Linked DNA regions of Homo sapiens: regions 2 and 3 are each linked to region 1. Evidence: fine-mapped expression QTL. A gene starts in region 1. Each other region holds a variant in brackets. All regions are shown on one strand. Distances are from middle to middle. Region 1 holds the start of CACNA2D4 (calcium voltage-gated channel auxiliary subunit alpha2delta 4). Region 2 holds the start of LOC105369602 (a long non-coding RNA gene). Region 3 holds the start of LOC105369601 (a long non-coding RNA gene).

Region 1 (8,174 bases):
ACTGCAGTGTCCCTGCAGGACTCCGTCCACACCTCTGTAAATAGCCTCTCTGTTAAACTCGTCTCAAGCTGCCCGATCCAGGGGTACCAGCTCTTCCTGCAGGAAACCCGACGCCAGACACTGATGGAAATGAGAGGGCCGGCCACGCAGGGGGAAGCAGGCAGACACAGCCGCGGCGCGGACTGCAAGCTCGGGGGTCAGCCGCACCGATGGGGGGCGCGCCTGAGGCACCCAAGGAGCAGCGGGAGCCCGCGCCCAGAGAGGCGCGGTCAGGAGAAGCCAGCTCCAGCCAGGTGGGGCCTCGTGGCTGTGAATTTGGTGGCATTCATCAGCTTCTTAAAATTTGTAATTTGGAATGATTTTTAAAATCAAGCCAGCTCCAGCCAGGTGGGGCCTCGTGGCTGTGAATTTGGTGGCATTCATCAGCTTCTTAAAATTTGTAATTTGGAATGATTTTTAAAATCAAGCCAGCTCCAGCCAGGTGGGGCCTCGTGGCTGTGAATTTGGTGGCATTCATCAGCTTCTTAAAATTTGTAATTTGGAATGATTTTTAAAATCAAGCCAGCTCCAGCCAGGTGGGGCCTCGTGGCTGTGAATTTGGTGGCATTCATCAGCTTCTTAAAATTTGTAATTTGGAATGATTTTTAAAATCAAGCCAGCTCCAGCCAGGTGGGGCCTCGTGGCTGTGAATTTGGTGGCATTCATCAGCTTCTTAAAATTTGTAATTTGGAATGATTTTTAAAATCAAGCCAGCTCCAGCCAGGTGGGGCCTCGTGGCTGTGAATTTGGTGGCATTCATCAGCTTCTTAAAATTTGTAATTTGGAATGATTTTTAAAATCAAGCCAGCTCCAGCCAGGTAGGGCCTCGTGGCTGTGGTCAAAACTGTGGCTTTTCCTCTAAGGGAGATGGGCAGCCCTGGGGGCTTCGGAGCAGAGGGAGGGAGCCACAGGGTCTGACTTACGTTTGAAAAGAGCCTTCGGTTGCTGCATTAAGAATAGATGATGAGAGGCAGGGTGGGGAGGCCCGGTACCAGACAGGGGCCCGCAGGAAACAGGTGGGAAAGCTGGTTTCCAAAGGACTCCTTGGAAAGGGGTGGATGTAGGGGACGCAGGATGCAGCCCAGCTGTACCCCCTCCTCCACCAGTCAGGGAAGGAAGCCGTCGCTGGAGCCTGAAGGGGAAGTGGGCAGAGGCAGCCGCCTGGAGGCCGGCGGTGGCCTTGGGCTGAGAAGGCCTGGTTTTGAGGCTTCCTAAGTATGTCTAAGGGGCGCACAGGACACAGGCCGCCAGTGTGTCTGCGAAGGACGGAGCTTTCCAAGCCGCTGTCACGCTTGACACAGTAGAGGGAGGCGAAGGCTTTCCGGACAGGGTGCTGGAACCCCGTGGGGGCAGTGGGAGCTTGTATAATGTGGGAGTGGTTACCCATAAAAGAAAAATAATGCAAATCCCAGGTACAAACATAAAAATAAAAGTGAATATTTATTATCGAAAGCAGGATCTCGAGAGATATTTGCACACCCGTGTTGACGGCAGCATATTTCACAGTAGCCAAAAGGAGGACACCACCCCAGGGTCCATCGATAGAGGAACGGATGCACAAAATGAGGTCTATCCACACAATGAAATATTAACCCATCATTGGTCACCCCCAAAAAGTAAGGAAATTCTGACACACGCGGCACCGTGGGTGAACCTTACCGACATTGTGCTAAGTGAAATGAGCCAGTCATGGAAGGACAACTATGTGATGACTTCCCTTCTGTGAGGTCCCTAGAACCGTCAACATCAGAGATACAGAAAGGAGAGTGGTGGCCGCCAGCGGCTGGGGGAGGAGGGAACGGGAGCTAGTGTTTAATGGGTTCAGAGTTTCAGTTTTACAAGATGAACGAATTATAGAGATAGATGGCGGCGAAGGTGGAGCAACATGATTAATGTATTTAATTACACTAAACCGTACACTTAAAAAGATGATTAAGATGGCACATTTTATGCCACAATAAATATTGGGCCACAATAAAAAAGTTGAAAAAAGGTGAATATTTATTCAGTTTTAAAAATCATTCCAAATTACAAATTTTAAGAAGCTGGTGAATTCCACCAAATTCACAAAACCTAGAGAAGTTACATTCTTTTTATGTATTGACTGCCCAGTGTGCCTCTGTAGTATTTTTTCTAAATGTGTTTGATTTGTAATCCTCAAAACATGTACAAAATTTATGTGAAATTAAGGCATTCATAGGAATCATTTAGATGCCTTTAAAAAATACATTGTATTCAGCCACAAAACTGTGCCACCAGATTACTCTGATACTACAGCACTGACTTATTGATGAATCTGTGTAGGAGTTTTGTCATCAGAACACTTGCTTCTGCAAGCATTTCTCTGCGTTGGTGGCAATTTTGCTTACCATTTTGCTGGAACCACCAGATTTTGTGAAGACACAGTGCACCAGTTACACTAAGAAAATAATCTGATACGGGGACTGCATAAAATCTATGACTTCACCCCCGGAGAACCCATGTGGTACTACTACTGGTTTGGGCTCACAACACAAGAATTTTGATCAATTCTAATTTGTGTAACTCTCATCAGAACACAAAGCAATGTACGGTGTAATTATATTCTTTCAATATCCACTATTTTCCTAACAGGAGAGAACTTCTGTCCTGGCCAGGCCTTGGTGAGAACCAAATCCTCCACCAACGATGTTACCTGTGTGGCTTTTTGTAGATTTTCTGCAGATGAGCTCCTGACTGTTACTTTGCCCTCCCCACCACACATGGCCAGGGTGGGTGTGACAGCGTGCGCTCACATCACGGCCCAGCCTCTCTTGCTGCATCTGCTGGTGGGATGTCCTGTGGGATGAGTGTTCCTGGAAGCCCTGCCTACACTCAGCTGGAGGTAACTTCTCTGTACAAAGAAGTCACTGTGAACCATGTCAGCATATCCCACTAAGCCCAGATTAAGTGTTTCCCCAGCTCACTTTCCTCTTAACTGGATCCCCCAAGTGCCCTCAGCCACCCAAACATCATCCAACTAAGAGTCCCTCAGACGGAAGAGAAGTTGGGATGGAAAGAGACAGACAGTCTCAACCGGTTATGGTTAAACTATCTCAACTTTTGCATATTTTACAAAAACATTTGGCCACAGGAACACATTGCTAGGGCCTCTCCGGGAAAGGGGGGAGTCTGTGGATTCAGGGGTCCTGAAGCTTCATCAGTTGCACAGCAAATGCGTCCCCAGCCCCGCCCACGAGCAGCTGAGATGTGGAGGCGTGGGTCCACTGACTTCACCTATGACCTATGACCTGTCCCAAAGGCACCAGGCCTGGAAACACCAGCCAGAGTCCCAGCTCTGCCCCTGGGACTCCCCGGGCCTCAAGAGCCTCTGCCAAGCAGGGATGAGGACACACCCCCACCTCAGGGTCAACAAGAGATTTGTGGGTCAATCAGAGTACTGTGCAAACTCAGCTGCTGTCCTCTGGCCATAGTCACAGCAAGCCCTTCCTGGGTCCAGAAGGTGGTTCCACAGGAACGGGGCTGCCTCTTTAAAGCAGAGGGGTGCACTATAGCCCTGAGGGAACCAGCTGCAGTTGTGGTAATCTTGGGAGGCAGCTCCCCACCCCCTGCCACCCCCTCCCTGCTGTCAGGAGAGGATTAGAGGAGAGGCCAGCGGATTAAAGGGTTTCATGTTGCCACAGCCTCTCCCCCAGTCCCTGTCTCCGAGGCCTGCTTGCTAGGTGGGGCGACTCTTCTGTGAGCTGCAGCTGTGGGGCAGAGAGAAGCCCTCCCCACCCAGGACTGAGAGGCTGGAGACCCCAGGCTCGCCAAGGCACGGAAGACAAAGGCCTGGGGCGTCCTGGGGTCTGGGAGGAAGGCAGACAGAGCTCATGGTCTGTGGCTGCTCTGCCCTCCTTCCCCTCCCCAACCCCAGGCCCACCATGCCTGCAACTCCCAACTTCCTCGCAAACCCCAGCTCCAGCAGCCGCTGGATTCCCCTCCAGCCAATGCCCGTGGCCTGGGCCTTTGTGCAGAAGACCTCGGCCCTCCTGTGGCTGCTGCTTCTAGGCACCTCCCTGTCCCCTGCGTGGGGACAGGCCAAGATTCCTCTGGAAACGTAAGCATCACGTTCAACCCCACCCCAAAAACCCGGTCACCCTTTCCCACTTTCTTCCCGGGCTGGGCCTCCATCCTCTGCCCACTCCTCCCGCCCCTGCCCTCCCTCTGGGCTTTTCCCCAGTGGCTGCGACTGACCACTCTCTTGCTGTAAAGCCCTTTGCTTCTCCGGCCTCCTCTTTCTCCTCCCAAAAGCTCTGTGAGTTCTGGAGTCCCACCTGCCTCTCCCCAGGAGCCGGATGGCTTTAGGAAGAACTGATCATCAGGGCTGCTGTCTTCCTGGCCTGACAAGCAGCTTCTGGGACACCTGAAGGGCGGGTGCTCCTTCAGGATAATCGCTGAGATGAGGCAGCCTGGAGGAGCCGGGTTATCTCAGCATCGCAGCTCCCCGAAGCATTTGGCAGGAAATGCGTATTTTGACATTCCAAAAAGGGGAAGCAGTTCTGAACCCACAGAACGTCTCATGCGCACAGGAGGTGGCTTGTCCAGGAACTGGGGAAAAAAATGGATTTTGGTGGCCGCAGTCTTCCCTTTCTACACCTTTCTGCCTCCTTCCAACCTTGATTCTCTAGCCGGCCATTAAGACCGGCTCCAGGAAAGAACCCGGTATCAGTCATGTGCACCTTGGTGTACATGTAAATTACTGTGCAACCTCTCTGGGGTGTCTGTGTTTTAGGCCCTAGCTCAGGTGGTCCTAGGAAGGAAATTTCCAATACATGTGGGTAGCAGAGCCTTCTAGACTGTAGGTGCTACAGACCCCATCCTGTTTACTCCAGCCGCTTGAGCCCAGCACCATAGCCAGGCCACCAACAGAGCCACCTGCCAACTGCATGTCTTAGCAGGAGTGGGGACAGGGAGCCTAAATGACACACCGTGCCTGTGCTTAGCCTTTGCTGACCAGTGGATTAGGCAGCATCGTTTCCCATCGAGCCGCATAGCTCTCCTTGTTCCCTGCCTGGCACGGAGCTGGGCGCTTCACAAATGACACCGTTAGTTTGCAGAGCCATTCAGTGGGGGCTTATTTTTATCCCTATTTTGCAGCTGAGGAAACAGAGGCCCCGAGAGGTCAGGTGACTTCCCCAAGTTCACAAGGCCAGGAAGTGAAGGTGCTGGGATTTGAACTCCTGTCAGCCTGGACTGCACTTTCACCATTACACCCGCCGCCAGCCCGTAACGCTATCTGTTGCTGCAGGAGATGTTCAGAACAATTTTCATCCCCAGAACACACACCAGCTGATAGGAGAGGGCCAACTCCAGGAGTGGGCTGAGGGCCAAGTCGGGGTGGCTGGAATCCAGGCCTTCAGGGAGGGGGGCCCCAGCGGCCATCTATGCAGAAGCCCTGGGTGCTGCCAGAGACAACAGCCTGCACACAGCCTCATCTGCCTGCCCAGGACTTGGCCCCACCTGTCCTCACTCCCGCCGAACCTCTCTTCTCAGTCTTTCCCTCCAGCCGGGCTTCCACCTCCTCCCAAGTCTGTTTCCACAGGGTTCCCAAAGCCCTCCTCATGCCCAATCCAGGAGACATTCCTGGCCTTGTCACCCCAGACCCTGTTGCTTGGGACACACAAGCCCCCGTCTTCTTTTATCCCAGTCCTTGACTTCCGTGGCACTGCGCTCCGCTGGGCCTGCATGGGCACGGCTTATCTCTGCTGTCCTCAAGTGCTCCTCCTCCTCTGCCTGCCCCGGAGGTGGGGGGTGCTCCCCAGCAGCTGTCGACGCTCAGAGATCTCACGCTGCACACTCTCCTTGAGAGAGCCCTCCTGCCCTCAGAATTTCAATCCCTACCTTTGCATCAATGACTCCCAGCCCTGTCTCTACCTACTAGACACATACCCAGTGCTTATGGGCAGCTTTTCCTAAACATCATGTGAGGTTTTAAATTCAGATTTGTGTCTTTCAAGGTAAAACACAATTGGTGCCTTCTAGAGTTGTGCAGTGCACAACCTTCCCAATGGTACTTGGTAGCTCTACAACGGGAACCTCACATTCAGCAGAGCCCAAGGTACACACATCACTTTTCACCCTCCTCAGCTCATTCCCCCTGCCCTTCCTGATAGTCTTAATTGTATTCAGTAACAACACCATCAGGTCAACAACCCACACTGGAAGCCCGGAAGTCACGTTTTACTCCTCCAAGCTCTTCTGTACTCCCGACCTAGAATCCTCTCCCAGACCCCTTTGCAGGCTAACCTCTACCAAACTTCTAACCTGGAGCTCAGATCTCCCTCCCCAGGGAAGCCTTCCCTTATACCACTACCCCTCCCCAACCTTCATGGGCACCTTCAAACATGTACTATGCTACCCGCATGACAAAGCTGTCCCTGCAAGGGTGGGGACTGTGGGGTGGCTCCAGGCTGCCACATGGTAGGACCTTGATAAACATTGGTTGAGTGATGACTGCTGATCTTGAAAGGATCGCACAGGCAAACCACTTCCGCTCCATCTGGAGAGGCTCAGCCCCAGCCCTGTGTACCTGCCCCCAGGACCCCACCAGCCTGGCCAAGATGGTGGGATTGTGGTGCATTTCTGGGGCATGGGCGAGAGGTCGGGGCTCCCCACTAGGCTGCCTACACAGAGGGTGAGGTGTGGCCTCCTTATGCCCTCCTGGCCTGCCCTGCCCTCAGGCTCAGCAGTGGCAGCTCAGAGCCTTTTCCTGCTGTGCCCTTGCCTCACGCGTTCTCTGAGGTTTCAACAGAGGGTTCGGCAGCCCCCAGTGGCTTTGAGTGGAGTGCACTGGAGGGAACGATTTATTGAGAGGCCACAGCTGTGGCCAGGCAGGTTGTCCTTTGTCCTCAGGGTCCTCCGGCCCTGGCCTGAGGCTGTCCACTGCCTCTCCCCTCCTTCTCTCCTCTCAGTCTGCCACTCTCCAACCAGAGGCCCTGGAAGCTTGGGGTCAAGCTCAGTCCTGGGCTCGTCAGCCCGGCCCCACAACCCTCAGCAGGAGAACCTGCCGAGGACATTCAGCACACAGCAGTGCAGCCGCTGGGTCCTGAGGGTTCTCCGCGTCTCCTGCCCAGGCCATGGCTGTAGCTTTAGGGACAAGGAGGAGGGACAGGTGCTCTTTTGTGTGTTTCTGGGCATATGTCACGTGTGTGTATGCATATGCATGTGTGTGGGGGGTATGTATGTGTGTGTACGTGTGTGTGCATTTCTTATGCATTATGTGTCTGTGTGTTGGAGTATGCATGCATCAGCAGGTGTCTGTGTGTAGACACTGGCTTTCTATGTGTGTGAACCCATATGTCTACGCGTGTGTTTCTGTATTTGTGCGTGTACGTGTGTGTATACGCGTGTCCTTTCATTGCCTGGCAGAGTGAAGCTATGGGCTGACACCTTCGGCGGGGACCTGTATAACACTGTGACCAAATACTCAGGCTCTCTCTTGCTGCAGAAGGTCAGTCACCCCCTTCCAGAGAGCCCACCGGGTGGCAGAGGGCAGTCAGCCATCGAAGCCCCCAAATGCCGGTGCTGTGAGGGGCCTTGGGCATCCCATCAAATCGGTTTATTTCAGATGGGGCCACTGAGGCCCAGGGAGGTGAATGATTTTCTCAACTCCCAAAGCAGGGCAGTGGGGGTGGTTCGGGGGCGTGGTCAAGAGCATTGTGTCAGGTCCTCAGGGAGCAGAGGCCAAGGTGGAATTAGACCTGCAGATGTACTGGGTGGAGGTGGGGTGAAGAATAAAGGAGAGACGGAGGGAGTGGATGCAGTGGGATGCAGGCCTAACACCTGTGATGCCAGCGGAGACTTGGAGGGCACGTGCAGGGCCCTGGAAGCTGCTCGGGCCGTAGAAGGTGAAAGGGCTGTGGCCTCTGCGCAGGGAGACCTCCCATACCTCCAGCTGTCAGCCCCCGAGCCATGTCCAGCATCCGCCCCCTTAATATGCATTGCTTTCTGTGCCGATTTATGGCTGGCTGGTCTTCTTACCAGGTTATAAACAACTTCACTGTTCTCTAATATTTGTAACTCCCCAGAGCAGTTCCAATGGCAGCTCACCCTTCTCTATCATTGCCACTCACTAAGAGCTTCATTGTCATGATTTCATTCCCACCACCAATTCA
Region 2 (8,174 bases), 120 kb after region 1:
TGACAAATCCTAGAAAAATCAAGCTAGTAATTTATGGAGGGGGATACATTTTTCTAGTGTCCAGGATACACATCCTTGCTCTCAGGGACCTCTCTTCTCAGAATCCAGGGTCTAAACCACAGGGTTGTTGGTGAATAAGCCTAGAATTAGGAAGGAGAATGGGACAGGTTTGTAGGAATTAAGACCAGCCTCGTCAGAAGCCTTGTCTGCACCCCGCTGCACTTTCCCAGGGAGCAGAAGACTCGGGTCATTCATTCCCTCACACATTCCTTCAGCAAATATGCATGGAATAATAACTGTGAACAGGACATGGTGTGGTGCTGTGGGACAGAAGTGGATTTCTGTCCCCTAGAATCCTGCTGTCAGGTGAGGGGGTGACGGAGGGGACACACACACACACACACACACACACACACACACACACACACAGTAACTAGAATAGCAAAAAGCGAGCCCCAGCTGAGAGAGTTTACTCCAGCTGGAGGCACCAGGGAGAGCTTCAGGGCTGCGCCGTGAAGAACAGGCAGGATTTCAATGTCTTTCACATTCCCATGTGCTGTTGTGTCCCTGGAATGCCCTTGACCCTCCCTGCTGTCCCGCTGCCATGTCCACTGCCTTCTTTCATGCAGCCTGCCAGGGCTTTAGGTTGCCACTCCTTTCCACCACCGTAGGAGGTGCCGGTTTTCAGCCAGCCATGTCTGAGAGTTTGTGTGTTCCCTGCCTGTCCATGCAAACTAGTCTGAAGCTCTTGATTCGTGTCCATTTCATTCATCTTTGCATCAGACTCACCTGGTGAGTGCCTTATGAATAAAAGGTATTATGAAATAGTTTTTGGTGGTCAGGCCATTCCAGGTAAAGAACTAGCAGAGTGTAGACAGACAAGTGTGAGCACCTTTGTCTGAATCTGTTTTCCTGCTGCTTACTTTTGTAATTGACCCTCCATTTTTAGATTACAATTTGCCATGCATTTTTAGTGGGTTGCATCCTTACGTTTTAATTTTATAAGTCAGCCATTTCCACTTACACAGGAAATACTGTAGGATGTAAGGACTATGTTTTGTTATTTAAGTCCAATTTGGAAAGTAATACTTCCTGACTCCATCCCAGATTCCTGGTGTGGGCGCATCTGGGGACCTGTGGCCCCATATTGGCTGATTATAAGTCACAGCATTATGAACCATGGGCATAACAGTTCTGGGGTTATTGTCCTGAAGCTGCACCATCATCTCTTATTTGAGAGAGAACTTCTCTGGTTGTTCATTGGGTGTTCAGGAGTTGTGCGTTCTGCCTAGCCCTTGTCTGGAATACATCTCTGTTCCCTTCAGAAGGCTTGCTGGAGTCTACTTGGCTGCCCAGGGCAGGCCCCAGGTGGGCACCCAGACAATGCCTGGCTTTCCTTGAGATTGGCCAGGCCCATGTGCCTCAGCTCCTGTACCAGCCTTGCATTTCTTTTTATTGGTAGTTATCACACATGTCATCATTTTGGGCCCTGGCAGCTAGAAAGCTCTCCATGAAGAACCTGACGTGGCCATCAGCTTGGTTCCCACCTCCCTTCCCTATCAACATTCCACACTGACTGAGTATGTCCAGGTACCAAGACACTTTGGGGAATTCAGAGATGAGTAAGACATGGTCCTGTTCTCATACAGTTTTCAACCAAATATCTTATCAGGCAGAGTGAGACTAGGACTCCACAGGCTGCCGGTGTGCAGAGGAAGGCCTTGTTCTGGCTGGGAAAGTTAGAATAGAAAGACTTCCCAGCGAGGGTGAGGAAAGAAGTTCCTTGGCATGAGGACAGAGGAAGGGTAATCGGCAGGGAGAACAGCCAAGCCGGACCCCGGACCTCTCCTCCTAACGATGGCTGCCATTTTTCAAGTATTTACTGGGAGCCACACGCCGGACACACGCTATCCCCAATTTTTAAAGACAGCCTACATTAAAGTCGAAATCCAACACCAAAGCCCAAGCTCTGCCACCCTGACATGCTGGGAAATGGCAGACTCAAGAGGCCAAGGCAGGTACAGAGGCCATGAGAGGTGGCAGAGTGGAGGGCCTGAGGCCATTCTCAGCCAGCTAGGGGGCCGCTGCTTGGCACAGGGCACAGAAGCCACAAAGTGCTGGCTGATGGACAACAAAAGGGGAGCCGGGGGCAGGAGGGAGGGTCCTGTTTTATTTTTTGGAAATGAAGGCAAGAGTGACCCATCCATGTTGCATTTGAGTAAGATGACTCTGGCAGTGCCACAGGGACAAGAGGAGAGGTCAGTTAGGAGGGCAGGTGGGCAATGGAGACAGGGCAAGGGATCCGGTTAGGTCATTGTCATGGAGGGGACAAATGACCGATCCACAGGGCACACTGATTGTGGGAGGTGATGGAGGGACAGCAAAAGCCACAGCAGCCCTCTCACACTGGGAAGATGAGGACACCAGCGTGCATGAGACAGGCGCTGCTTCTGACCTTGACCTGCAGAAACGTGTTTTATATCTGACCCAACACACACACACACACACACACACACACACACACACACACACACAGCATATAAAACAAATCCAGTTTCATAAAACATTCTTTAACCTTGCTGCAAGTGATTCACACAGAATTGTTCCAAGGAATTCTGTACCATTAAAAAAATCACATTGCAGCCTCTACGTTGGTCTCATAGTCAGCTAGCGGGTGACTCCTTCCAGTTGAGGAAGCACCAGGCTGGACGGTGAGGAGGGAGCCAGGACCGGACAGGGGCGTGGGTGGAAGGGTTCAGCTGGATTATGCTGAGAGGCAGTCAGAGGGAAAGCCCAACTGGCACCAAAAGCCTCGACCTGAGCTGAATAAATAGTGCTGGACTCGGAAGGCTCCATCCTGCTCCATCTCTCTCCCTCCCTCTCTCTCTGCTGTCCCTCTCTCACAGACGGGAAGATTTCTGGGGGAGGTGGATGGTGCTGTCCTGACCCAGCTGCTCAGCATGGGGGTGTTCAGCCAGTAAGTGGGGCACACTCCTCCCCAGTCCAAATAGACACAGCAAACCGAGAGCTGACGCTAAGTGGTCCTGGCGGATCTCAGGATCCTGACCTCCAAAACCCACAGTGGGTGCCCCCAAAGAGCTGCAAAAGCAACCTTTATGGAGCCAGGGCGTCAGCATGATGTGGGGAGGGCGTAAGGGCATGTGGGCATCCCTGGGAGGGGCTCCGCAGCTCAGACCCTAGAGGGAAAACCGTCCAACTCCGAGGGCAAAAGCCATTTGCTCTTCATTGTCTTTAAACCATTCCAAGTGCAGAAATGTAATTTTCAGCATGAGCTGTATTCTGATCTGCTGTCCTAGCTCAGGCGCCCTTGGGAATTGCGGTAAACGGATGCTCTGCTAGTAAAGCCTCCTGAGGCAGGGGCAGGGGGTGGGGGTGGCTTTGGACTCATCACAGCCCGCTTCTGATTTTCAGAGTGACTATGTATGACTATCAGGCCATGTGCAAACCCTCGAGTCACCACCACAGTGCAGCCCAGCCCCTGGTCAGCGTGAGTGTCACCCAGCCCTTCCCTCTGCCAGCCAGCCAGCCAGTCCTCTGCCCTGTCCTGGAATGAGGTCACTGGTCCCTGTTCTCACCCACCTTGGGTGTCTGGCCCCAGGGCCCTACCTTGACCATCTCCATCTTCTGCTCAGAGCCACTGCTCTCAGTCCCACTCCCAGGCAGGCCTCTGGGTCTGGCTTTGGGGCTTCAGAGGGACTGCTCTGGTAGTTGTGACA[C/T]AACAGTGCCTCTGGCGGAGACAGAGAGAGCAGCCTGCCCCAGCCTCAGCCCCTGACACTGCCGCTTGATCACCAGGGATCCTCAGCAGTGCAGCACCAGGATGAGGGCTTGACTCGTCTCCTGGAGGGGCATGTCCAACCCCACCCGAGATGTCTGACCTGCAATAGGCATTTCCCAGCTAGCTCAGCTCTGCAGGGCAGGTGGGAGGTGGGGGGATGGGGGGTGCTGGGCTGCTGGCCTGTGCTCTGCTGCCCCTGCTCCCAGTGGCAGGGCAGCCCACTCTCTGGTCTCTCTGAGGGTGGTGCTGGTGGTGGGGGGGGGGCACCCTCACCCTTGGACCTAGGTGCGAGCGGTGTGCACTCTCTCCTTCCCAGCCAATTTCTGCCTTCTTGACGGCGACCAGGTGGCTGCTGCAGGAGCTGGTGCTGTGAGTGGGGGTAGACACGGGGCTGGTGGAGGGCTGCATGCGAGGGTGGCTTAGGAGGGTGTCCTTGAGCAGGAGGCTGCAAGGTCTCCAGGACAACCCACTTGCTACCAGACCCCGGGGAAGGAGGGCACAATCCCTGGGCATGGACGCCACCTCTTCCCTGCATGCTGCCCCTGGGAGGGACCTCATTGCTCAACCAGAGCCCTCAAGCAGGGAAGAGGGTGTCCTGGAGGAGAGGGGATGGGCCGGGGGCTGTCAGGGATACTCCAGCTCCTTGGGAACCCAAGTCGGGAGGGCTCAGAGGTCTCCGAGATTCAGTCCTGTGTCTGACAGGTTCCTGCTGGAGTGGAGTGTCTGGGGCTCCTGGTACGACAGAGGGGCCGAGGGTGAGTGCACGGAGCTGCAGGGCCATGTGCTGAAGAGCAGTGGCATTTTGGTCCACTAACGTGAGACCATTCCCTGTGGGGTGGGTGACAGTGGGGATAGGTGACCCTGAAGCATCGTTGTTCACATCTCACCCTGCGTGGCCTTCTCTCATCACATCCCTCACTCCTGGCTCTGTGTGTGACATCATCTTGGGACACCGCCACTCCATGTGCCATCATCACCACCCCATGACATCCTGCCCTCATGTGCCACCATGTTTTCCTGTGCCGTGTCCACCCTGTGCTGGGCTTATGTTCCGGCCAGCCAAAAGTGTCTTCCATCACTGTAAGTAGCCCAGCTGAGGCCATCCCTGCTGGCGGTGGGTTGGGGACGCAGCAGGAGCTACAAAGAACCCACCCTCCATGACCTGTCCCAGGAATGACCCCAAGCAGGGCTGAGCTCTCCTGGTTTAAAGTACCATTCCTGGGGGTTGGGGGACTGGGGAGTCTAGCCCAGTTCTCATCCCACATGAGGACGGTCAGGCCCCAGGGAAAATGAGAAACTCCAGCCTCCCCTTGGGTGAGAACACGTAAGATTCCAAGAGGAAGCCGGTGGTGTGGCCGGGTGGCCATGAGCCAGTATGAGTGAGCAACCTCCAGCCCACCCCTTGGAGAAGCAAACAGCGGCACCCCAGCCCTCAGCGGGACTCCGGGTTCCAGGGGCCCCAGGAAGCTCTCAGGATGATTCCCCTGCGGGACCCTGTGTCTGAGGACAGAGTCCCCCAGAGGCAGCAACCATGAGAGGCCCCAACACAAAGCCCGGTGGCTGTGGCCACACGTGCAGGGCGGCAATGAGCCTGGCCTTTCAAAGCACTCACTGCCCGGGCGCCTGGGCCCTCCATGACTGCAGGAGGCCATCTTGCCTCAGCGGGCTCTGCTCAGTTCCTCCGTGTTCCTAGAACCTTTGCCATGGGGTTCCAGAACTTCCCACCACCTGGGCTGTCCCCAGCTTATCCCATCTCTTCATCTCCACTGTGGTCCTCTCTCTGGCTTGCTCTTCGTTCTCTTCTGCTGGCCTTGGCTTGGGGCTTCCTCTGCCCCTGGGCTCAGGGCAGTTCGGGCTGTGTCTCCAGACTCCTTCTGGACTCACATCCGCGATCGGGTGGGGCTGCTCTGGGGTGTTCACAGTCACTAGGTGTCAGTGACAGGACACTGTCCCCTCTGTCTCTGTCAGCAGCTGCATCTTGCAAAAGTTGAAGATGATCCCCCTCAATCTGCCTGCTCAGAATTTCTCTTCTCTGGGGTACCTGTCCCCTGGAGCTCCTCCCCCTGGTCTGGCCTACACAGATGTCAGTGTCCCCAGTGAAGGCGCACTGGACTTGGAGTCCCAGGCCGGGGCGTAGGTGCTGCAGCCCCTTCCACTGCGTGACCCTGGGGACGCCACTCAACCCTGCCATTGTCAGGCAGGCTTCTGTGCCCAGCCCTGGGGACAAAACTCACAGCCCTGGCCGCTGTGGGCTTGCTCCTCTCGGTGAGAGTTTTCTGCACGCCAGCTAGTGTCCCCTCTGGGTTTCCAGCTCTGGCTGGGAGCTTCTGGATTTGGAAGCTGGGGAGACCCATGCTCTCCTGTAGGACTCTGCATGAGCCTGGGAAGGTAGCTCACACCTGTGCTCCCTGCCTCTAGGTCTATCCCTGGGGGCCACAGCCAGGCCCTGAGAACAGAAGGGCCATGCAGACAGCCTGTGTGGCAGGGCCCTGCTCTGCCATGTGCCCACCTCAGGAGGCTCCGGGAGGGAACGGACTCGGGTCCTGCAGAGCGGGGCTGAGGCACTCGCCTCCACCTTTGGTTGAGTCCACTGTCCTTGTCCCAGGGAGCTAAGGCAAATCGCGCAGCCCCCGAGGAGTCCCGCACCGGGTGGCTGTGGCTTCTGGGCTTCCGCAGCCCCAGGCCTGGAGCCCACCTGCCCGGCTGCCCCCACCGCAGGCGCTCAGGCTCAATGGGTGGAGTGTGGGCCTGGCTGTGCGGGAGAGCAGGGCAGGATTGCCCAGGAACTGCACTGCGTCTGTCCACAGTGAAGGGAGGGGTGGTGGGCCTAAGTACCCCCAAGCCACCCCTTGGTGCCCCTACTGCCTCTGCTCCCCGCTCAGACCCTCCCCCGGGATCTGAGTGCTGGAAGGGGCCCTGGAGATGGTGCACTGCCCCCAGCTCAGTGAGGGCCAGGCTCCCCAGAGGAAGCGCTTTCCCTCCACCGAGGCTCAGGGCCCCTGCGGCGCTCCCCGTGCCAAGCCACCCTCTCCAGAGACTCCGGGTGTCTTCCCTCCCCTCACCCCCCGCCCGGCTCCTCCCACGCGTGTCCTGAGAACTGCCTGAGGAGGGACCCTCTGCAAATGCACTGGGGTGAACTCTGGCCCTGGGAGTGCCGAGGCGAGGTCACCGCAGGCCAGAGGCCCCTTCGGTGGCGTGATGTCCTTTCTCCGCCCGCAGCCCACAAACACAAGAAGCAGGACCCGCTGCAGCCCTGCGACACGGAGTACCCCGTGTTCGTGTACCAGCCGGCCATCCGGGAGGCCAACGGGATCGTGGAGTGCGGGCCCTGCCAGAAGTAAGACCGCAGGGCGGCGCCGCCCGTCCCGCCACACTCCTCCCGCCCTCGGCAAGGCGGAAGTGCGGGCAGGGCCCCGGAACCCCCGGGAAACGGCTCCACAGCCGGGAGGAGGGGATGCGTCTAAGTGCAGAGCCCACGCTCCCGGGGTCTTCCCCCGCCGTCCTCAGTGGAGGAGACACGCAGGAGGCGGACGGTCTGAGGCGGGCAGGACGGCTGGGGACCGGGACAGCCGGGATGGGGAGAGGTGGTCCCGAGGCCTGACCCTGTGTGTCGAGCCCACCCCGCCGAGGCCGCAGCCGTGACCCCACGGCGTCTCTGGGCGAGTGGGCCCTTCGGCGGGTCTCCCCCAGCCCTGCTCAGGCGGTGCCCAGGGCGGTGCCAGTGCCCGCGCCTGAGCTGCGTGGGGAGAACTTGGAAGGCAGAGGGAGTGTGAGAAGAGAAGGCCGGAAGTGTGCGATGTCCTCGGGTCGCTGGGAGCCCCGCGGGCAGCCTCTGTCAGGCTTCCTGCTGTGTGGAAGCCGCTAGTTATAACCCGCCCTGGCCCCGGGGAGGCAGGGAGGCCGCGCGGAAGGGTCTCTCCTGCTGACCCCCCGCACCCAAGCCCGGGAGGACCCCCACGCTGGGAATGCGGCGGCCTCCTCGAGGGTCGCCTCAGCCAGACGTGCCGCTCGCCAGGCGGTCCCTAGACCCCCGGGCCCGTGGCACACCATTTAACAGTGCGGCACCTGCGGCGCTGGCATCGGGGCTCCCTTCTCCCCCACTCCCTGCGCGTCGTGCTGCGCGGGTTTCACCCCGGGTTCTGTGCAGCGTTGAGGGCTGGGGTTAGCGTTCCCTGTGCACTTGTCGCAAAGGCTCGGTGCGAGGATAGAGCCAGCGGGCTCCGGAGTGAAGCGAGGGCTTCAGAGTAGACACTCCTGAATTGAAAACTGGCTCTGCGCTCCCCCGCTTATGACCGTGGGCAAGTGACTTCGCCTCCTCTAGTCTCCATTCTCTCATCTGCAAAATGGGCACAACACCAGCCTCATACAGAGCCGTGAA
Region 3 (8,174 bases), 110 kb after region 1:
AGTCACACTGTGATAGGTACGATTCTAGGTGCTGGGGATCAAAACTCAATCCCCTGCCTGCTATTAGCCCCAGACAGACAATAAATGAGAAATCAAATAGATGAACAAATCATGTCACTTAGAAAATTTAAAAAGTAATAAGGTAGAGAGTGAAAGTGAGGGAGGTCCCCCTGGCTGGCTTTATCTCGGGAGGCCAGGGACAGCCACTCTAGGAGATGATATTGGGCTGAGACCTGACGATGGGAAGGAGCCAGCCATGTAAAGTTCTAGGGGAAGGGCATTCCAGGAGGAGAGAACAGCTGGTACAAATGCCCTGGGGTGAGAATGAGCTTAACATGTTTGAGAGGTGAAGTGTTTCTGGATGAAATCAGAGAAATCAGCAGAGCCAGTTCCTGTGGCCATCTTGCAAGTTTAGATTTTAAGATCAATGGGGACCAGGCATAATGACTCACGCCTGTAGTCCCAGCACTTTGGGAGGCTGAGGCAGGTGGATCACTTGAGGTCAAGAGTTTGAGACCAGCCTGGCCAGCATGGCGAAACCCCATCTCTACTAGAAATACAAAAATTAGCCATGCATGGTATCACACGCGCCTGTAATCCTAGCTACTAGGGAGGCCGAGGCAGGAGAATCACTTGAATCTGGGAGGTGGAGGTTGCAATGAGCTGAGATTGTGCCACTGCACTCCAGCCTGGGTGACAGAGTGAGACTCTGTCTCAAAAACACAAAACAAACAAAAAAGAGCAATGGGACGACATTAGAGGGTTTTAAGCCAGGGAGTGGTGTGATTTGATCTTCAGAAAGATCCACTCTATGTGGAGAATGGATCAGAGAGAGGCAGGATGCAAGGCGGGGGCCAGTTCGGGGGTGCTTGCATTAATCCAAGTGAGAGCAATGTTGGCTTGGCCAAGGGTGGTAACGGTGGAGATGGAGGGAAGCGGACAGATTTATAAAGTTTTGGAACTGAGGTGTGCAGACGTTGGATGGGAGGAGGGAAAGTGATAGCAATCAGATAGAAAATGTGTCCTGAAATGGAGAAGTCTCAAGGAGGGTCAGGTCTGGGGGAGAACACGCTAAGTTCAAAGTGAGAGCTGAAGCCAGCTGGACTTCTTGGGTCGAGTGGGGACTTGCAGAACTTTTTTGTCTTACAAGAGGATTGTAAAACGCACTCATTAGCGCTCTGTGACCCAAGGGCAGATGACATGCCAATAGGCGGTTGCAATGCCCTAAATTTCGCAAAGGACACCCGGGGCAAGACACACAGCTTGGCTTGGAGGAGCCTGGAATGGAACCAAGTGGGGGAAAATATGCTCTGTGCCCTGCTCCCCCCATTTCTGCCCAAGGAGCCTCAACACCTACACCCCCACCCTCTCCAGACTCCCCATGTTAGAATCGTAGAATTCCTTCCAGCTCAGAAATCTCATGATTCTATGCGACTTGACACTGAGCCATCAAATGGAAAGGCAGAGTCTCATTCTAGGAATAATGTGAGACCTCTTTGACCACGGAGGCCAAGGACAGGATGAAGGAAGCTTTCTTCAATCCCGAAGAGCTGGTCATTCTGAGCAGTAGCGTGATTCGCTCTGATGATCCTCTTTCATTTAGCCTTTTCCTACAGGTGAAAGAAATCTGTCTAAAATGAATGTCTAGGGTGGTCTTATAAGGGAAAAGAAGGAGAAGAGACCGAGGGGTCCCCGCAACCTTAGAGGGGCACATGAGCGGGAGGAGGAGCACAGCCATGCTAGGCCCTGAGCACACCTCACCTGCCGCTGTGCGCTGTGTCTGCAGCTCTCATCTTTGTCATGAGCCAGCAAATGGGTCTCCCCGTCCCCTTCCAGCCCACTCCTTTCAGCTACCTGGAACTCAAAGCAACAAAGACACCCCCAAAGCACTCAAATGTTCCCATATCACAGGACCTGTTCAAGAAGGCCAGCCAGCCGGAGCACCACCCCAGGATTGCCATGAGACTCCAAGGGAGGGGAGGTACCTCTCAAAGCCTCGGTTTCTTCATCTGCAAACTCAGATGAGCTCTAGAACAACACTGTCCAAAACGCTGGCCACCAACCATACGTGGCTATTTAAATTTAAGTTAATTAAAATTAACTGTTTTTTAAATTCGGGTCCTCAGGCGTGCTAGCCACACTCCGAGTTCTCAGTAGCCACGTGTGGCTGTTGGCTACCGTTTAGGACAGCACAGATGTAGGCCATCTTCATCATCTTAGGAGATTCAATTGGTGAGGCTTTAGGACGGGGGTTCCCTAAATATAGTGCCTGGACTAGCAGCATCGGCAACCCCTGGGAACACTTCAGAAACTCTCAGGCCCACCCTGGACCCCCTGAAGGAGAAACTCTGGGGGCGGGGTTCTAACAAACCTTCCAGGCGATTCTGATGCACGCTGAAGTTTAAAAATCAAGGCTCTAGTCTGGAGTAACAGCCTCACACATTATCTCGCTTGAGCCTCAACAATCTTATGCAACTTCTGCCCTTCCAGGGGAAGTAGAACCGTGACTCATCTTGCAGCTGAGGAGACGAAACGCAAAGATCACAACCCTGGAAAATGCAGGGCTGGACCTCTGGCCTTTGACCCTTCCCTGCTCTCATTTTTCCCATCAAATTTCTCTAAGATCATTCCAGAGTGAAAAAACAAAAACACAATCCTGTATCTCTGTGCCATACTGGAACTCCCACCAACTGGGTACTCGAGAAGTGAGAATGACTGTGACGGACACAGCGTAATGGTTAAGAAGCCACATCCGTTCCCGTTTCACAGATGAGGAAACCCGAGCCTGAGCAGACAGCGGCTTGCCTGTGCCCGCCGCTCCTTCCCGATCACCAGGACTCAGTCCAGGTCCAGAGAGGAGGCAGCTTCAGGGAGAGACAGGCCCAGGCTGCAGTCCTGCTTCTGTGATTAACAAGCTGGTGACTTGGGCAAGCCATGTGACTCTGAAAAGTCTCCATTTCTTCAGCTTGGAAAGTCAGAATAATAATAGGACTGGCCTGCTGTGGGATTCAATACACTCATGCATGTGAGGTGCTGGACACGTTCTAAGCGCCCAGCGCAGTTTTGATATTATTATACCAGACACTAGGAAGCTGGCCTAGTTTTGAAATTCTTCTTCTTTTCAATATAACCTGCCTCTTCTTTCTATTCATTGGCCCCAAGTTTTCCTGGAGCTCTTTGTCCCAGATTTCTCTGGATATGTGAGCACCTGCTTGGGTTCTCCAAGCCTATTTGGGAACCAGAAAGTCAGGGGTGGCCCTTGTAAGCACAGTCATCAAAAGAGAACTATTTGCCAGCTGGTGGTGCCTGTAGTTTCCTGGAACCCACCTGCAGCCCTGGGCAAACCCGAACCTGGCTTTGAGCTGGAAAAGAGCCTCCTTATAAAGCAGGGAAGATCCTGAGCAGACAGAGGGTATGAAAGGAATGGTTACACCAGGTTAAGATCCAAGGAGCCCATGAGTTGCTAGGGCAACGGCCCTGAATTCCAGGGTGCCACTCTTGGTCACGTGATTTGGTCAAAAGGGTGGGTCTCTCTGGCCTCTATATTCCCATCTATGGGAAAGGGGAGACTGAGCTGTCCCATCCACCGGCCTTGAGTTCCCAGAGATCTAGGATGAATCTGCCCTCGTTGTTTTCTGGAATGGGAGCCTCATCACTGCTGGGCATTTTCTGTCGCTCTTCTTCCA[G/A]TGGGAACGAGAGAGGCTGCCGTCTCTGTTCTTCCCCCACCCCTCCCACTCCCCAGAAACCCCAGTTTGCACTCTGCCCTCTGACTCAGTCCTCCCATCCGCTGCGGTCTCTCTCCTCAGTTCCTGCGGAAGCACCTCCTCTCTTTAACTTGACTCTATTTTTTTCTCTCCCCGTCTCTTCCCTGGCCTTGCCCTCTCTCTTTCTGCCCTGTAGCCGCGGGCGTCCAAATGAAGCTGGAATTCCTCCAGCGCAAATTCTGGGCGGCAACGCGGCAGGTAGGTGTGATGTCGGGCCAGGTCGGGGCTGGGGACTCACCACGCTCCCCTGGGTGTGAGACCCCCTCTCCCTCCCCTTGGATGCTCCACTGCCTTGAGGCTCTCAGGATGCCCTCCCGGCCCCTACACTTCTCAGCCCCTCAGCTCCCCAGCCTGCAGGCCGGGCCTCAGCGCTGGTCCCCAGCCCCTGCCAGCCCAGTGCTGAGGGCACGACCCAGAGTCACCCCTTCTCGCCACTCCAAAGCCACTGGCATGCCTCCCCGCTGAAAAGGGAGAGCCACCTCGATCCACCGTCCAAGGTCCGGGGTCCAGGCCCTGATGGCTGGCAAGAGATGCCAGAGACGACAGCGGCTTCTGGCTGAGAATTCCCAGCTCTGCCTGGCCTCGTCCTGTCCGTTCTACTGGCTCCTTTCCCCTCTGCTTCCCCAGAGCCCTCAGGTCCCTCTGGGCTTCTGAGCTGCCCCCTTCATCTCCCTCAAGCTCCCTCAGCCTCAATCTCCTGCAACGCCGAGCCCCTCGGCCCCCATCACTTGCTGCTGCCGCCTGACTCTGGGCAAGGGCAGGGAGCCCAAGAGTGAATCGAGAGGGATGGAGGGCAGGGGGCTGCGGTCACCCACCGCCTCAACCAGACAGCCAGTGCAGGAGCCCCACAGAGCCCACAAAGTCCCCTCCCCACACCAGCAACGAGGCCTGGGGGCTGCAGAGCCTGCACCTCTAGAAGGGCTACCTGGGCCCTTCCACCACCCAGGGCCTGCCGAATGCAGCACCCGCAGGCCACATACCACATGCATACCACGCACACAATGCTAACACACACCACACGCATGTGCCCTCCACGTACAGACACCCCACACATAGACACACACATGCACACACCTCACACACGTGCTCTCCACATACGACACACACATCCCACACCCACACCCCACACAGGTGCCCTCCATGTGCAGATACACACCCCATGCACACATGCACACACACTGCAGACGTACCACACACACAGCATTCCCACTTACACGTGCCATTTCTACTACACATGCAGTGTCCACATTCAGTCTCTCCTCTTCCTTCCAGTGCAGCACTGTGGATGGGCCGTGCACACAGAGCTGCGAGGACAGTGTAAGTTCTGCCCGTGTGAGGAAGGTGGAGGAGGGAGCCATGGCCCTCCGCCCGGTCCTCCTGGCAGGCCAGCTTCCCTCTCCCAAATGCCCTCCTTCCCTGCAGTGAAGCTCCCACGCTGCCTTCCAGAGCTGGGGGACAGGCTGGAGGACCGGGGTGGGTGAGGGCCCTGGCATAACCTCCCTTCTGGGTTTCCTCCCAGGATCTGGACTGCTTCGTCATCGACAACAACGGGTTCATTCTGATCTCCAAGAGGTCCCGAGAGGTGAGTCACTGGGGATATAGAATGAGGGGGAGAGGGCGGCAGGAGGACTGGAGACATTGGGCAGCCACTCCAGCTAAAGAGAGCCCCACGGCCCCAGGAGGGAACCCTGTTCGGGGCCAATTCAGGTGAAAGGTCTGAAGAACATGGTGTTCTGACACCAAAGTCAACAGAGCAAGAAGGCAGAATTTGGAGCACTTTTCAACTCAGGGAGTCAGAGAAAATATTACTTCTTCATTTTATCTGTCACTAGCCTGGCCTCCTCCCGTGCCTGGTAGGAGCCACTCAGTGACCCCATCTCAGGGCCCTGCCTGGCCACACTGGCCCAGCCTCACTCGGGGCCTCCCCACAAGGATCCAAGCACACTCACTTATCAGATCATTCCCCAACCCCCGCCTGCCTTTCTACCATTGTGGGGCCCAGAAGACATGGCTTCCCCACTTCATGTTCTTGTCCTGTCTGGACCTTATGGAAAATTATACTCTCACCCACCACGCCCGGCCTTCGGTGTGTCAGAGAAGAAATGGGGGATGGACGCGATGCTTTCTCGCCTGAATGCCTGGCTTGCACATCCTAATCCTCCCCCCGCCCCCGCTGGCTGTGGGTATCTCCCTGAACCCAGCATGTGCTCAGAAAGGAAAAAGAGAAAGTACAATAATATTTTTATACTTGCTGGGCTCCAAAAGGGGCCTCAAAATGGATTATTCCTTTAGCCAGGAATCAAACTGAGAAAGAAGCCCATTCAAACCTGAAGCAAATCCAGATATATTCACCAGATGTATTTCCTTGAAGCAAGGCAGAAGCATCAGAACCGCCTCCTGCCTGAGCCTCGGGGAAAGGGGCATAGTATTTGGTTCTGTGTGAGCTTTGCTACTAATTAGAAACGTGATGTGGGCAAGCGACTTCCATTAGCTGTGTCTCGCCGGGGGCTGGACTACACAGTGTCTAAGCCAGCCCCAGCTGAGGGCTCTAAGTTCCTGGGATGTGGAGGCTGATGCAGAGGTCGTGGCCAAGGCCACCTCCACGCATGGTAGGGCTGTGGTCTGGCCTGACCGGGATGCGGCTTCGGATCCAAAGAAGTCGTCGGAACAGGGCAGGAACTGGAGCAGGGATGTCGGAAGGAGACTTGGGAAAGAGGGCAAGTGAGGACAAAGGGGCACCAGTGGGTCATGAAATCTAACTCCTTGGGGTAGTGTTTAAATGACCCACTTAACGAGCAGCAGTTCTCAGCCACAAGAGTAGAGAAGCCAAAGATGGTTTCGTTCAACTTCCTGTTGGTGGGAGTGTGGGCGGGGCTTTGCAGGACACACAGCTAATTGAGCATCACGGTCACCTGGGCGCCTGCCTCTGGTACCCTCCCCCTTCTCCCTTTCATGCCCCATTTTCGTCATTTCACTCCTCCCCAGACAGAGCACCGGACCTTTGTATTTTTCCGTTGTTCTGGGAGAAAACCAGTGATGATAAGAGTTGAAACCAGTGGTTGGTGTGAGGCTCTGGGATCACTGATGCCCCCTCATTCGTGCTCCGACCCCTCTCGCCCTGGGTGACTGAGACTGACCGTGTCCCCAGGCCTCCCGTGGTGTTGGCTTTCAAGGGCCGGAGCATGGGCTAAGGCATCCCAGAGAGAGCTTGCATCCTGGACACTGGGATGGGAGGTGGCAGGACAGAGGGAGAGGATGGCCAAGCCTGAGAGCAAGCTCAAGAGCAGGGGTAGGCGAGCGTTTCCTAAAGGGGCGGATGCACATGTTGGTTTTGAGCTTCATGAGACTCAGCCCTGCTGTTGTAGCAAGAAAGCAGCCATGGGCGATCTGTGAGCAAATGCAGGTGGCGTTGCTCCAGTAAAACCTTTGAATACTGAAATGTGAATTTCATATAAATTTCACGTGTCATGAGATGTTATCAATCTTTTGACTTTTTTTCCCCAACCACTTGAAAATGGAAAAGCCAGTCTTAGATCAAGGGCTCACATGAATCAACAGTGAGCCAGGCTTGGCCTACGGGCTGTAGTTTCCAGCCCCTGCTCCAGAGGCAGCGGGACAACCGTGCGGGGAGGCGGCCCTGGAGGGAAACCACCCCAGCCTTGAGAGAAGCTGGAGAGCACGTGGCCTCTCCAGGGTCCCTCCAGGGTCCCTCGAGGGACCCTCTCATAACCCACTGGGCCACTTTGGTCCTATTCTGTCCAGACCACATTTGCTCACATGTCTTCACAGATTGTAAAATCACTGAGAACAAGTTTGGATTAGATGTGGTAGCAATCAATTACTCAGAGATTTATATTTTATAATGTATTTGTTGACTTAACTCATTCACCCCCATTTTCTCAATGATTCTATTACCTTTTTACCCCGTGTGTAGTTTTATATGCCATCCCAAACCCTCCATGAAATGAAGCAGGGCAGAAACGAACTGACCTTCTAGAGGCTCCTGCTGGGGCCCCCGCTCCCGCCGTGCTTGGCTCACCCTTGCTCCCCCACTGTGATCAGGGCCCAGTTCCTCCTTCCTCACTCTGGACAGCTCTGACCATGCAGCCTGAACTGTGTCGGGTTATGGGAGGGCACTAGGCCAGAGACCCTGCCTGGTGTGGTGCCTGGCACACAGCAGACACTGGGTAACCGTGTGGAGAACTGAACTGGCCTGAGAGTGAGGGCTGGAGGCAGCAGGCGCTAGACTGGGAGATGAGTGGAAGACAGGGCGGCGGAGAGTCTGGGGCTAATGCCATTTGTTCAGCTGTCCGACCCTCTGTCCGTCCATCTGTTTTTGCTGTTTTTAAAAAAACTTACTCATTTAACAACTCTAGAGCAGTTATCTATTGCTGCACACAAACTATGGCA

What was found. PIP is the estimated chance that this variant, and not a neighbour inherited with it, causes the effect.
Region 2: its variant is fine-mapped to the expression of CACNA2D4 in caudate (GTEx, PIP above 0.99). The same link has a PIP of 0.9 or more in putamen.
Region 3: its variant is fine-mapped to the expression of CACNA2D4 in whole blood (TOPMed, PIP above 0.99).

What each region holds. Positions count from the first base shown.
Region 1 is chr12:1,914,190-1,922,363 of GRCh38, reverse strand. It overlaps CACNA2D4 (calcium voltage-gated channel auxiliary subunit alpha2delta 4), which reads left to right and starts at 3,712. Exons shown (of 38, transcript NM_172364.5): 1 at 3,712-4,117; 2 at 7,429-7,510. The coding sequence starts at 3,891. RefSeq lists an enhancer at 5,063-5,639.
Region 2 is chr12:1,796,377-1,804,550 of GRCh38, reverse strand. CACNA2D4 (calcium voltage-gated channel auxiliary subunit alpha2delta 4) reads left to right here. Exons shown (of 38, transcript NM_172364.5): 30 at 2,907-2,977; 31 at 3,433-3,508; 32 at 4,113-4,165; 33 at 4,499-4,551; 34 at 4,856-4,876; 35 at 7,016-7,133. It overlaps LOC105369602 (a long non-coding RNA gene), which reads right to left and starts at 4,112. Exons shown (of 4, transcript XR_931549.3): 1 at 3,628-4,112. RefSeq lists enhancers at 1-8, 1-58, 6,515-7,419, 7,420-8,174 and silencers at 7,347-7,576, 7,677-7,806, 8,147-8,174. The variant C/T (reference allele first, on the strand shown) is at 3,738.
Region 3 is chr12:1,807,450-1,815,623 of GRCh38, reverse strand. It overlaps CACNA2D4 (calcium voltage-gated channel auxiliary subunit alpha2delta 4), which reads left to right. Exons shown (of 38, transcript NM_172364.5): 27 at 3,901-3,962; 28 at 5,037-5,081; 29 at 5,284-5,346. LOC105369601 (a long non-coding RNA gene) reads right to left here and starts at 2,428. Exons shown (of 5, transcript XR_931546.3): 1 at 1,762-2,428; 2 at 1,493-1,610. It overlaps LOC105369602 (a long non-coding RNA gene), which reads right to left. Exons shown (of 4, transcript XR_931549.3): 4 at 8,127-8,174. RefSeq lists an enhancer at 2,414-2,653. The variant G/A (reference allele first, on the strand shown) is at 3,687.